2 linked regions of the Homo sapiens genome follow. The protein of the gene in region 1 interacts with the protein of each later gene in a pairwise test. Each region holds a gene or a part of one and is shown on either strand. Other genes may lie near its edges.

Evidence for each region.
Region 2: the proteins of TRIM51 (region 1) and ANTXR1 interact in a two-hybrid assay, tested with the Homo sapiens proteins (one study listed by BioGRID).

Annotation. Positions count from the first base shown.
Region 1 is NC_000011.10:55,878,765-55,886,394, forward strand, and holds the start of TRIM51 (tripartite motif-containing protein 51), read left to right. Parts: upstream 1-4,532; 5' UTR 4,533-4,620; intron 4,621-6,660; 5' UTR 6,661-6,664; coding exon 6,665-7,075; intron 7,076-7,358; coding exon 7,359-7,454; intron 7,455-7,630.
Region 2 is NC_000002.12:69,247,179-69,250,140, forward strand, and holds the end of ANTXR1 (anthrax toxin receptor 1 isoform 1 precursor), read left to right. Parts: 3' UTR 1-2,149; downstream 2,150-2,962. UniProt on the Homo sapiens protein: Plays a role in cell attachment and migration. Interacts with extracellular matrix proteins and with the actin cytoskeleton and thereby plays an important role in normal extracellular matrix (ECM) homeostasis.

The sequences.
Region 1 (7,630 bases):
TTTTTTGCATCTGCTTTCACTCTCACACCAGAAAAGACAAGAACACTAAATAAATAAATAAACAAATAAATGAATAAATAAATAAACAAATAAATATATAAATAAATAGTGAAATAAAAAAATATTTATTCCTGATTTTGTTTTATTGCTTAAAAGCCTGCATAGGTGAAAGATAAAGTTTTGTTTTGTGGATGGTGAGAAAGTCACCAGAGGAAGCAGGAGAGAAGTGGGGGAAGTATTTTAGCAGTGAAAAAGTTGATGATTTGTTGTTCATACCTACATACATATCAGTTAACAGTCCTGAAAAATATGTTGAAGAAACTGTGTAGTGTTAGAACTGTATAAGTCTCTAGGGAAGTCTCTTGTTTCTAAAAGGCAGGTCTAGCTGCCTAGAACAAACTTCACATTCTTTATCTTGAAAAGGAAGCAGCAGATGCAGCAGTCTCCCCAGAACCCCGCTATTTCAGACAAAGATGTCAGGGGAGTCTGCCAAGAAGTGGAACTCAGAATTTCATTTCCAAATATTCTGAAGGCCATAAGGCTAAGGAACCTTACACATGTGGGGCAGAAAAAAAGAAAGATCAGACTGAATTCTGACTCAGACTCTCCCACTATGCTTTAAAATTTGGAAACTGTAAATAGAAATTAATTCCAAAAAGGAAGTAATAATTTTTGAATAATCCAATTTGTGGATTCAAAGGATTCTCATGAACTGGCTTTTAAATAGAAATAGTGATTTTTATTTATTTTATGGCTGTAGATGTTGTAACTGCAGGTTTTTCCTTCCAGGAGTGAGTCCGTGCTGCTGCACGTGTCCCAGCCTCTGAATCTAGAGCTCAGTGCAGGGCCCATCACTGGACTGAGGGACAGGCTCATCCAATTCTGAGGTAAGTCTCCACCCATAGACAGCACTTCCACTATCTAAATATTATTACTGTTAGGACCACATAGGTAATATTTCACCCTTTATCAGATATTTTACTTCCTTATAGACATAAGTGAACAACATAATCATGCAACCCTTTTGTATCTGTGTCTGTATAGTCAGATTTATAGCACTAAGTTTGAAAGATAGTGAAAAACAAATACATTTTGGCCTCATATATACTGAGTAATGTAATGGGAAAAACCAGTAGTGTAGCAAATTTTAAAAAGGAGCAAATGGAACAATGCTCAGAATGAAGGTGAGTTAGTTAATGTTAAATACAAAATTTTACATTTCCTTAGTGTATTCATTTGAACAGCTAAGAACTGTTCTTTTGGGGATTATGGTTTAATGGGGATTGCTGGGGTTTTTAAATTTTTTAAATGGATGTTTATCATGAATTGTAAAAAAAATTAGTTAATGGGTAAACATAAAAACAAGAAATCGTTTTGTGAATACAAGTAAAATTACAAACAAAAAGAAGTTCAGTTTAATTGCAATATGAAAAGCTACAGGTTAAGTTTAAAATCCAGCTTTTCAGCCCCAAGCTAGCATGGAGGACCACAGAGAGACTGGTAAAAGATTTTACAGAAATCTGCTTTAAATTGTCACTTATGACATGTACTTACGGATTTTTATCCAGTCATCAAGAGCAGTTCTTGAGTAACTGAAAATCTTCACATTCTTTCCAAAATGATAGCACTAGTTTTTAAGAATAAGAAACATTTCTAAATAATAATCTTGATAACAGCATACTATTTAGGGCATATAATGTGCAAATTTTGCTTTGAAAATTGGGTTGAAAGAAGTTGGTCCTTACATTTGGCTCTCAATATGTAAGTTTTCAAACCATTTTTAATACCTGTGGTTATTGTTTTGTTTGTCTTGTAGTTAAAATTAATCATCTCTATGCTTTATTAGAAGTTACAAGCAAAATTGTCCTTGTGACTTTACATTTCCTGGTAAATTAACTTCTTGATAGAACAATTTTTGCTTATTGACACATGTCTATGCATGTTTTGTTTCTTTCTCTTTTATTTATTTATTTATTTTTGCAGTGGATATTACTCTGAATCACGATGAGCCAACAGTCATATCTTTCGATGTGGAGATTTGAGAAGCATGTGTATTGGATGTGACCGTCCAAATCCGCCCCATATCACTGCAACACCTACAAGTTTTCTTGCATGGGGTGCTCAGACTTTCACCTCCGGCAAATATTACTGGGAGGTCCATGTGGGGGACTCTTGGAATTGGGCTTTTGGTGTCTGTAATAAGTACTGGAAAGGGAAGAATACGAATGACAATATATATGGAGAGGAGGGACTCCTTAGTCTTGGATGTGCCAAGAATGACATTCAGTGCAGTCTCTTTACCACCTCCCCACTTACACTGCAATATATCCCAAGACCTACCAGCCACATAGGATTATTCCTGGATTGTGAAGCTAGAACTGTGAGCTTCGTTGATGTTAATCAAAGCTGCCTTATATACACCATCCCTAATTGCTCCTTCTCACCTCCTCTCAGGCCTACCTTTCGGTGTATTCACCTCTGACCAGAGATAAATCAGAAATGTGTTCATCTGCTGTGAGAACCCCTTTATTCCAGGAAGCCCTCTTCCTTGTGCCTTATCAAACAGGACAAATAGGTTCTGTTTTATGTCTTGAATTGCCTCCTAATGTTATTAAAACTCATTTATTGTGTTACTATTAAAAATGGTAAAAACACTAAAAGTATATGTTTTGGTTCTTTATTAATTTTTGAAAAATCATCATTCATGATCATGGCATAAAATATATTCTGTTTTTTTTTCTTTATTTCTGACTGCCACTGAGTGAAATAATAGATGACAGACATGTCTGAATGGAGTTAAAATCAATGGAAGAGAGTCGGGATCTTTTGCTTCATGCAAAAGCTTGGAGTGAAGTCTTAATGATAGCTGGGAAATGTTTTTCTTTCTCTTTACCTAACTATATTGCACTTCTCCATCACATTTCATTTTACTAATCTATCCTTTGAGTTAATATTATTTGACCTTCCATGCTGGGCTTCATTTTGGAATTCTCACCACATAGATAAATAATCCTGCATTATTAGTGTGCTCTTCTACATTGAAATACACAAGGTGGTCAGAACAATGCTGGATTAATTGAATTTTAAAAAATAACTAAATATTGACTCCTACCTCAAAACACACACAGTCATTTCCAAATAGATTCCAGTTCTGAAGGTAAGGGGAACATGATACAATATTCTCATAAGGATTTCTTAACCAGGACAAAAATTAACAATTAAAAAAATTAGTAGGTTTATATTAATGAGGACTTCTGTGTTTCAAAAAACATGATACAAGAATTGAAATGCAAACAATTAGTGGAGAAAGATATTCACCTGAACATATATAAAATAAAATGCAATACATGTGCATGATGAATACTTAAAATGTATTTTAAGTATTTTTCCAGATTCTTCCAGAGTGGCACAGAATAAACTTGGATGGCAGAGTCAATGATGAGATTAGCTGTGGAAATGGGAAACCGTTTTTTGGAGGCAGTAGTAATGCTGCGAACTTATGAAAACAACCAAGTATTCAGTAGCAATTAAAATGTGTCTCCATAAGATTATTTTACAGATGCGTATCTGAAATCTGAAATTTGGGAGAACATTCTACTAATGTTCTCCAGTGAAAAAATACAGCTGGAAGAAAGAAGGGAGGGAAGATGAAGGAGAGAGAAATAGAATGCATTTGAGAGAAAATGCTATTTAGACTAAAATAGAATACTGCAGATACCATGACAAAGTGGTTAAGGTGTGTCTTATGGAGCAGAAATGGCAGCAAATACCACAGTAAAGAGATTTACCATTGGATTGTTAGTTCCGGCTTTTATTCTGTCAATGTTGTGGCTTCTAAACACATCAGTAATCTCCTTTGATCCATGTGCTAATTAACAACCAACACTCTGCCCCCTCTCCCAGATTCTTTCATCATTTTAAACCTAATCTAATTCTAATCCGGATGGTCACTGTAACACATGTAATCACCTAAGAATTTTAAAAATATTTTTGATGAATAAATGAAAAATTAGCTAGGTGCAATGGCATAAACCTCTAGTCTTTTTTACTTTGAAAGCTGAAGTGGGAGGATTACTTGAGCCCTGGAATTCAAGGCTGCGGTGAGCTAAGACTGTGCCACTGCACTCCAGAGGGTGAAACTTTCTTTGGTATAAATAAATAAATGTGCACTTAGAGGAATGCTTGTGCCTTGGGAAGAAACTCAAGAAACAGTTTAATCAACTTAGTTAATTTCTAGCATATGTTTACTCTGATAAGATTGATGATAGATATGCCTCATTCAGGCAGTGGTTTTTACAATGATAGTGTGATGCTAATTTAATCAGTGATGAAAAGGCGTGTACTAAATATTGCATAAACCTAATCATCTCTGTCTCCACCTTTCTTAATACCCTAAATATCACTAAATAGGTGGTTGTGGTCTTCAAAGATTCACCTAAATGGATGTAGAAGAGACAAGCTCATATTTCTCCAGAGGAGGACAGCACTTAGAGTTAACTGCATTCAAGTGATGACCTCTGAAAGTCAACTCTGCAGGGAATGAGCTCCTGATCTTGGGGAGTACTTAAAAGAATTTTTTCTTGGAAGAATTACTGCAGGAAACATTCATAGAACCTTGGGGTGAGTGCAACTTCTATGGAGAAAATTATTTCTCTCTTCCTTTAAAATAGTAAATTACAGTGATAAAAATATCTAACTGTCTAAACTTACCGAATGATCTTATTTGTAACTCATATTATTGCTATTCATTTTATGACATGAGGTTATGACATGAGGTTATTGTTGTCATTTTGTGTGTTCCAAAAGTGTTTGATATATTTTTGAAAAATTTTAGATATCTAGTGTTTGCTGCAATAGATTTGTATGCATCATGGGTATATGGAATTCATATTAAAACATATATATGTGTACTGCATGTACTAATATTGGTACACTTAATTAAGTAAAAAAGGATAATTATTGAATACTGTAAATGTTGTGCTTTCATAACCTTAAGCTTTTAGACATGATTTTAAGTTACTGAGGCAATGATGAGTTAAAAATGGTGATACTAAAGGAAATAAGAATGCTCTCCAAAATACCCTAGCTTAGAAATCAAAACACGATTGTTTAGCAGATAACTGTATAAGGAATGATTTGATACTTGATACTAGCTGTCATTTTAATTGAGGTTTACCTCAGATGAAACTGTGAAAAATTCCTTGAAATGGCTCAGATGGCCTCTGAAAAATATTTGCAATTCTTAAATTTTCACTCTTGGCACTTAAATTCAGCAGTGTTTAGTAAAAGAGAGTAAGGTAAAGGACTTCAAACTGCCAAGGCAAAGATTACAGTTTGTATTGGTCAGGGTTCTCCAGAGACACAGAACCATAGGATGTGTACATAACTATAACTATATATATATATATATATATATATACACATACCAAAAATACTTACAATTGTGGTACAATTGCCTATCGTATACCATACAGGTTTGTAGCCTAGGAACAATATGCTATACTGTATACCATAGGTGTGGTTTGTGTAAGTATACCCTATGATGTTCAAACAATAACGAGACTGTCTAACGCGTCCCTCAGATCATATATCTGTCCTCACTCTACACATGACACTGTACAGGAGAGGAAGTCCACTAGGGGAATTTGTTCCCTTGATTATGGAGTCTGAGAAGTTGAACATAGGCTGTCATTAAGGTAGTGTCCTGGAGATACCAATATCCTGGCTGAGTTAGAATCAGCTTCAGGAGAAAGAGAGGAAACTGCCTTGTCTCTGCCCTTTATCTTCAGTCTGAGCTACCAGCTGATTGGATAGTGTCCACCCACACTGAGGGCTGCTGTTGCCCACTCAGCTCACCAACTTACATGACTCTCCGGAAACACCTTCACAGACTCACCCAGAAATCATGCTTTACCAATTCTCCATGTATTATTTAATCCAGTCAAGTCAACACCTATAATTAACCATAATACCATAGTAATATAATGATATATATTTCAGTTTTTAAAAAACTGACTATATGTCAGTTCATAGTTTGAGTAGCCCAAAGAAGAAGTTAATTTAAGCCATAAGAAAAATAAACCCAACATTTTTCATTATTTATTTTATCTCCTAGTGATCCTAGACTGGTTTAATTGCTGTCTTTTTTTTTTTAATCTGGTCGGTTGGTTTGTTCTGGGGTTGTTTTTGTTTTAAAGAGCCGGCTTCTCGGTCCCTCTCTCTAAAAATATGTCATAGCAACCTCTGACCATCTTCTCATGTTTTGTTACCCAATGTAGGTTTTCTACTCCTCTCCCATAGTCATTCAGTTGTTATTTGAAAGAGAAATAGGGACAAGCATGTTTCATTCTAGACCACTTAAGATTAAAACCCGAGTTTCATGTCGACATCCAGGGAGTAGGTTTTTGAACAGATTTGCATTATGCTATGGGCAGGAACCAGGAGTAGAAGAGGTTGTGAGTCATCTAGTCAGCAGTGTCTGCTAAAAAGCCTAAAGACTCTCTTTGTGTTTGAATTTTTCATTTTTGTTACAGAGGAAATAGTTTGTTCCGCTTTAATGAGCACTGTCAAGAAGAAAATATAGCTATCACATATCACCACATGTTCACGGATTTTCACCAACCCAGACCCCAAAATGACATGCTGCTCTTTCTTCTTCAGAAACATGAATTCTGGAATCTTGCAAGTCTTCCAGAGGGCACTCACCTGTCCCATCTGCATGAACTACTTCCTAGACCCAGTCACCATAGACTGTGGGCACAGCTTTTGCCGGCCCTGTTTGTACCTCAACTGGCAAGACACGGCAGTTCTTGCTCAGTGCTCTGAATGCAAGAAGACAACGCGGCAGAGAAACCTCAACACTGACATTTGTTTGAAGAACATGGCTTTCATTGCCAGAAAAGCCAGCCTCCGGCAATTCCTTAGCTCTGAGGAGCAAATATGTGGGATGCACAGAGAGACAAAGAAGATGTTCTGTGAAGTGGACAAGAGCCTGCTCTGTTTGCCGTGCTCCAACTCTCAGGAGCACCGGAATCACATACACTGTCCCATTGAGTGGGCTGCTGAGGAACGCCGGGTAAGTGATGCCTCTGAAGATCTATTTCTATACAGGACACATGAAATTCTTGTAAGTCTATTTCCTTCGAGATTGGATGATGCCATCTCTGTGTCCCCTTAAGCATGTCTGTTATGAGCTTCCTTGACTTCACACCTCTCAGATTTGACAAACATGAGGAGAAACAAAGCAAACTCTCTTTTCTGTGGGTTAATTTGTCTCTCATTTTGGGTCCTTCGTATATCAGAGTGTGAATGATACTTTATTGTCCTCACTTGTGCTTCAATTCGTGGCTGTTTTGCAGGAGGAGCTCCTAAAAAAAATGCAGTCTTTATGGGAAAAAGCTTGTGAAAATCTCAGAAATCTGAACATGGAAACCACAAGAACCAGATGCTGGAAGGTTAGTACCGTATGACTCTACCTTCTCCGGGAACTTATAGTGAACAAATGGGTGACTCTTAAAATAGGAACTTGATCTCAACCCATAATGTTTCTGGAATTCAATAAACAAGGAAAAAACACTTGAGAAAAAAACACCCTAATTTTTTATATAAGTTAGTGTGACTCTTTGGTAGG
Region 2 (2,962 bases), on another chromosome or scaffold:
GCCGCCACTCAACAGTCAGATGAACCCAACAGTCAGATGAGAGAAATGAACCCTACTTGCTATCTCTATCTTAGAAAGCAAAAACAAACAGGAGTTTCCAGGGAGAATGGGAAAGCCAGGGGGCATAAAAGGTACAGTCAGGGGAAAATAGATCTAGGCAGAGTGCCTTAGTCAGGGACCACGGGCGCTGAATCTGCAGTGCCAACACCAAACTGACACATCTCCAGGTGTACCTCCAACCCTAGCCTTCTCCCACAGCTGCCTACAACAGAGTCTCCCAGCCTTCTCAGAGAGCTAAAACCAGAAATTTCCAGACTCATGAAAGCAACCCCCCAGCCTCTCCCCAACCCTGCCGCATTGTCTAATTTTTAGAACACTAGGCTTCTTCTTTCATGTAGTTCCTCATAAGCAGGGGCCAGAATATCTCAGCCACCTGCAGTGACATTGCTGGACCCCTGAAAACCATTCCATAGGAGAATGGGTTCCCCAGGCTCACAGTGTAGAGACATTGAGCCCATCACAACTGTTTTGACTGCTGGCAGTCTAAAACAGTCCACCCACCCCATGGCACTGCCGCGTGATTCCCGCGGCCATTCAGAAGTTCAAGCCGAGATGCTGACGTTGCTGAGCAACGAGATGGTGAGCATCAGTGCAAATGCACCATTCAGCACATCAGTCATATGCCCAGTGCAGTTACAAGATGTTGTTTCGGCAAAGCATTTTGATGGAATAGGGAACTGCAAATGTATGATGATTTTGAAAAGGCTCAGCAGGATTTGTTCTTAAACCGACTCAGTGTGTCATCCCCGGTTATTTAGAATTACAGTTAAGAAGGAGAAACTTCTATAAGACTGTATGAACAAGGTGATATCTTCATAGTGGGCTATTACAGGCAGGAAAATGTTTTAACTGGTTTACAAAATCCATCAATACTTGTGTCATTCCCTGTAAAAGGCAGGAGACATGTGATTATGATCAGGAAACTGCACAAAATTATTGTTTTCAGCCCCCGTGTTATTGTCCTTTTGAACTGTTTTTTTTTTTATTAAAGCCAAATTTGTGTTGTATATATTCGTATTCCATGTGTTAGATGGAAGCATTTCCTATCCAGTGTGAATAAAAAGAACAGTTGTAGTAAATTATTATAAAGCCGATGATATTTCATGGCAGGTTATTCTACCAAGCTGTGCTTGTTGGTTTTTCCCATGACTGTATTGCTTTTATAAATGTACAAATAGTTACTGAAATGACGAGACCCTTGTTTGCACAGCATTAATAAGAACCTTGATAAGAACCATATTCTGTTGACAGCCAGCTCACAGTTTCTTGCCTGAAGCTTGGTGCACCCTCCAGTGAGACACAAGATCTCTCTTTTACCAAAGTTGAGAACAGAGCTGGTGGATTAATTAATAGTCTTCGATATCTGGCCATGGGTAACCTCATTGTAACTATCATCAGAATGGGCAGAGATGATCTTGAAGTGTCACATACACTAAAGTCCAAACACTATGTCAGATGGGGGTAAAATCCATTAAAGAACAGGAAAAAATAATTATAAGATGATAAGCAAATGTTTCAGCCCAATGTCAACCCAGTTAAAAAAAAAATTAATGCTGTGTAAAATGGTTGAATTAGTTTGCAAACTATATAAAGACATATGCAGTAAAAAGTCTGTTAATGCACATCCTGTGGGAATGGAGTGTTCTAACCAATTGCCTTTTCTTGTTATCTGAGCTCTCCTATATTATCATACTCAGATAACCAAATTAAAAGAATTAGAATATGATTTTTAATACACTTAACATTAAACTCTTCTAACTTTCTTCTTTCTGTGATAATTCAGAAGATAGTTATGGATCTTCAATGCCTCTGAGTCATTGTTATAAAAAATCAGTTATCACTATACCATGCTATAGGAGACTGGGCAAAACCTGTACAATGACAACCCTGGAAGTTGCTTTTTTTAAAAAAATAATAAATTTCTTAAATCAACTCTTTTTTCTGGTTGTCTGTTTGTTATAAAGTGCAACGTATTCAAGTCCTCAATATCCTGATCATAATACCATGCTATAGGAGACTGGGCAAAACCTGTACAATGACAACCCTGGAAGTTGCTTTTTTAAAAAAAATAATAAATTTCTTAAATCAACTCTTTTTTCTGGTTATTTGTCTGTTTGTTATAAAGTGCGACGTATTCAAGTTCTCAATATCCTGATCATAATACAGTGGTTGCTGTGCTATACATTAAATTACATTTCTCAAATGATTTCATGCCTTCCACTAATTTCTCTACTGTCTGGATTACTGTCATTTCTTCCTTAGCTGTCAGACATTCAAAATATTTTTTATTTCTCATAACAAATTTCAAATTAAAAATGTAATCCATGCTAAGAGAAAATAAGTAAAAAGTGAAAACAGAACACACAGGAAAAATATACTGCATCAGTTAGGATTGTGTTTGGCTAACGTAGCAGAAAGGCAACTAGGATTGATTTTACAAGGAGTCCAGAGATTTGCAGCAACCCAAGAACCAGACAGTGTTGTGGACAGTGCTGCAATAAATACCTTTCTATGTACATCTCAAAATCTTTGTATTGCTTCTGCATTTCTGATACAACTCACTTTATCCCTCCTAGCAGTTTTAATTCAGCTCCTCCATTTATTTTGTAGGTAGAAGAGCATCTCCTTCTAGTTCCTGAATTTCTTTGTAAGATCTCATTGAGCCTTGAATACATCTTAATTGGAATAAAACCATCCACAAACAGAAAGTCATGCCACAAGTCTTTTCTAAGTTTTCATTAGTATTTGCTTTTTAATAGGTATGGGTATGAACACATTTTAAAATTATATCTTTAATAATTGTGTTTTGGGGGTTATTTTGAGACAGGATCTTACTCTGTCACCCAGGCTGGAGTGCAGTGATGCAATCATGGTTTACTGCAGCCTCAAACCCCTAGGCTCA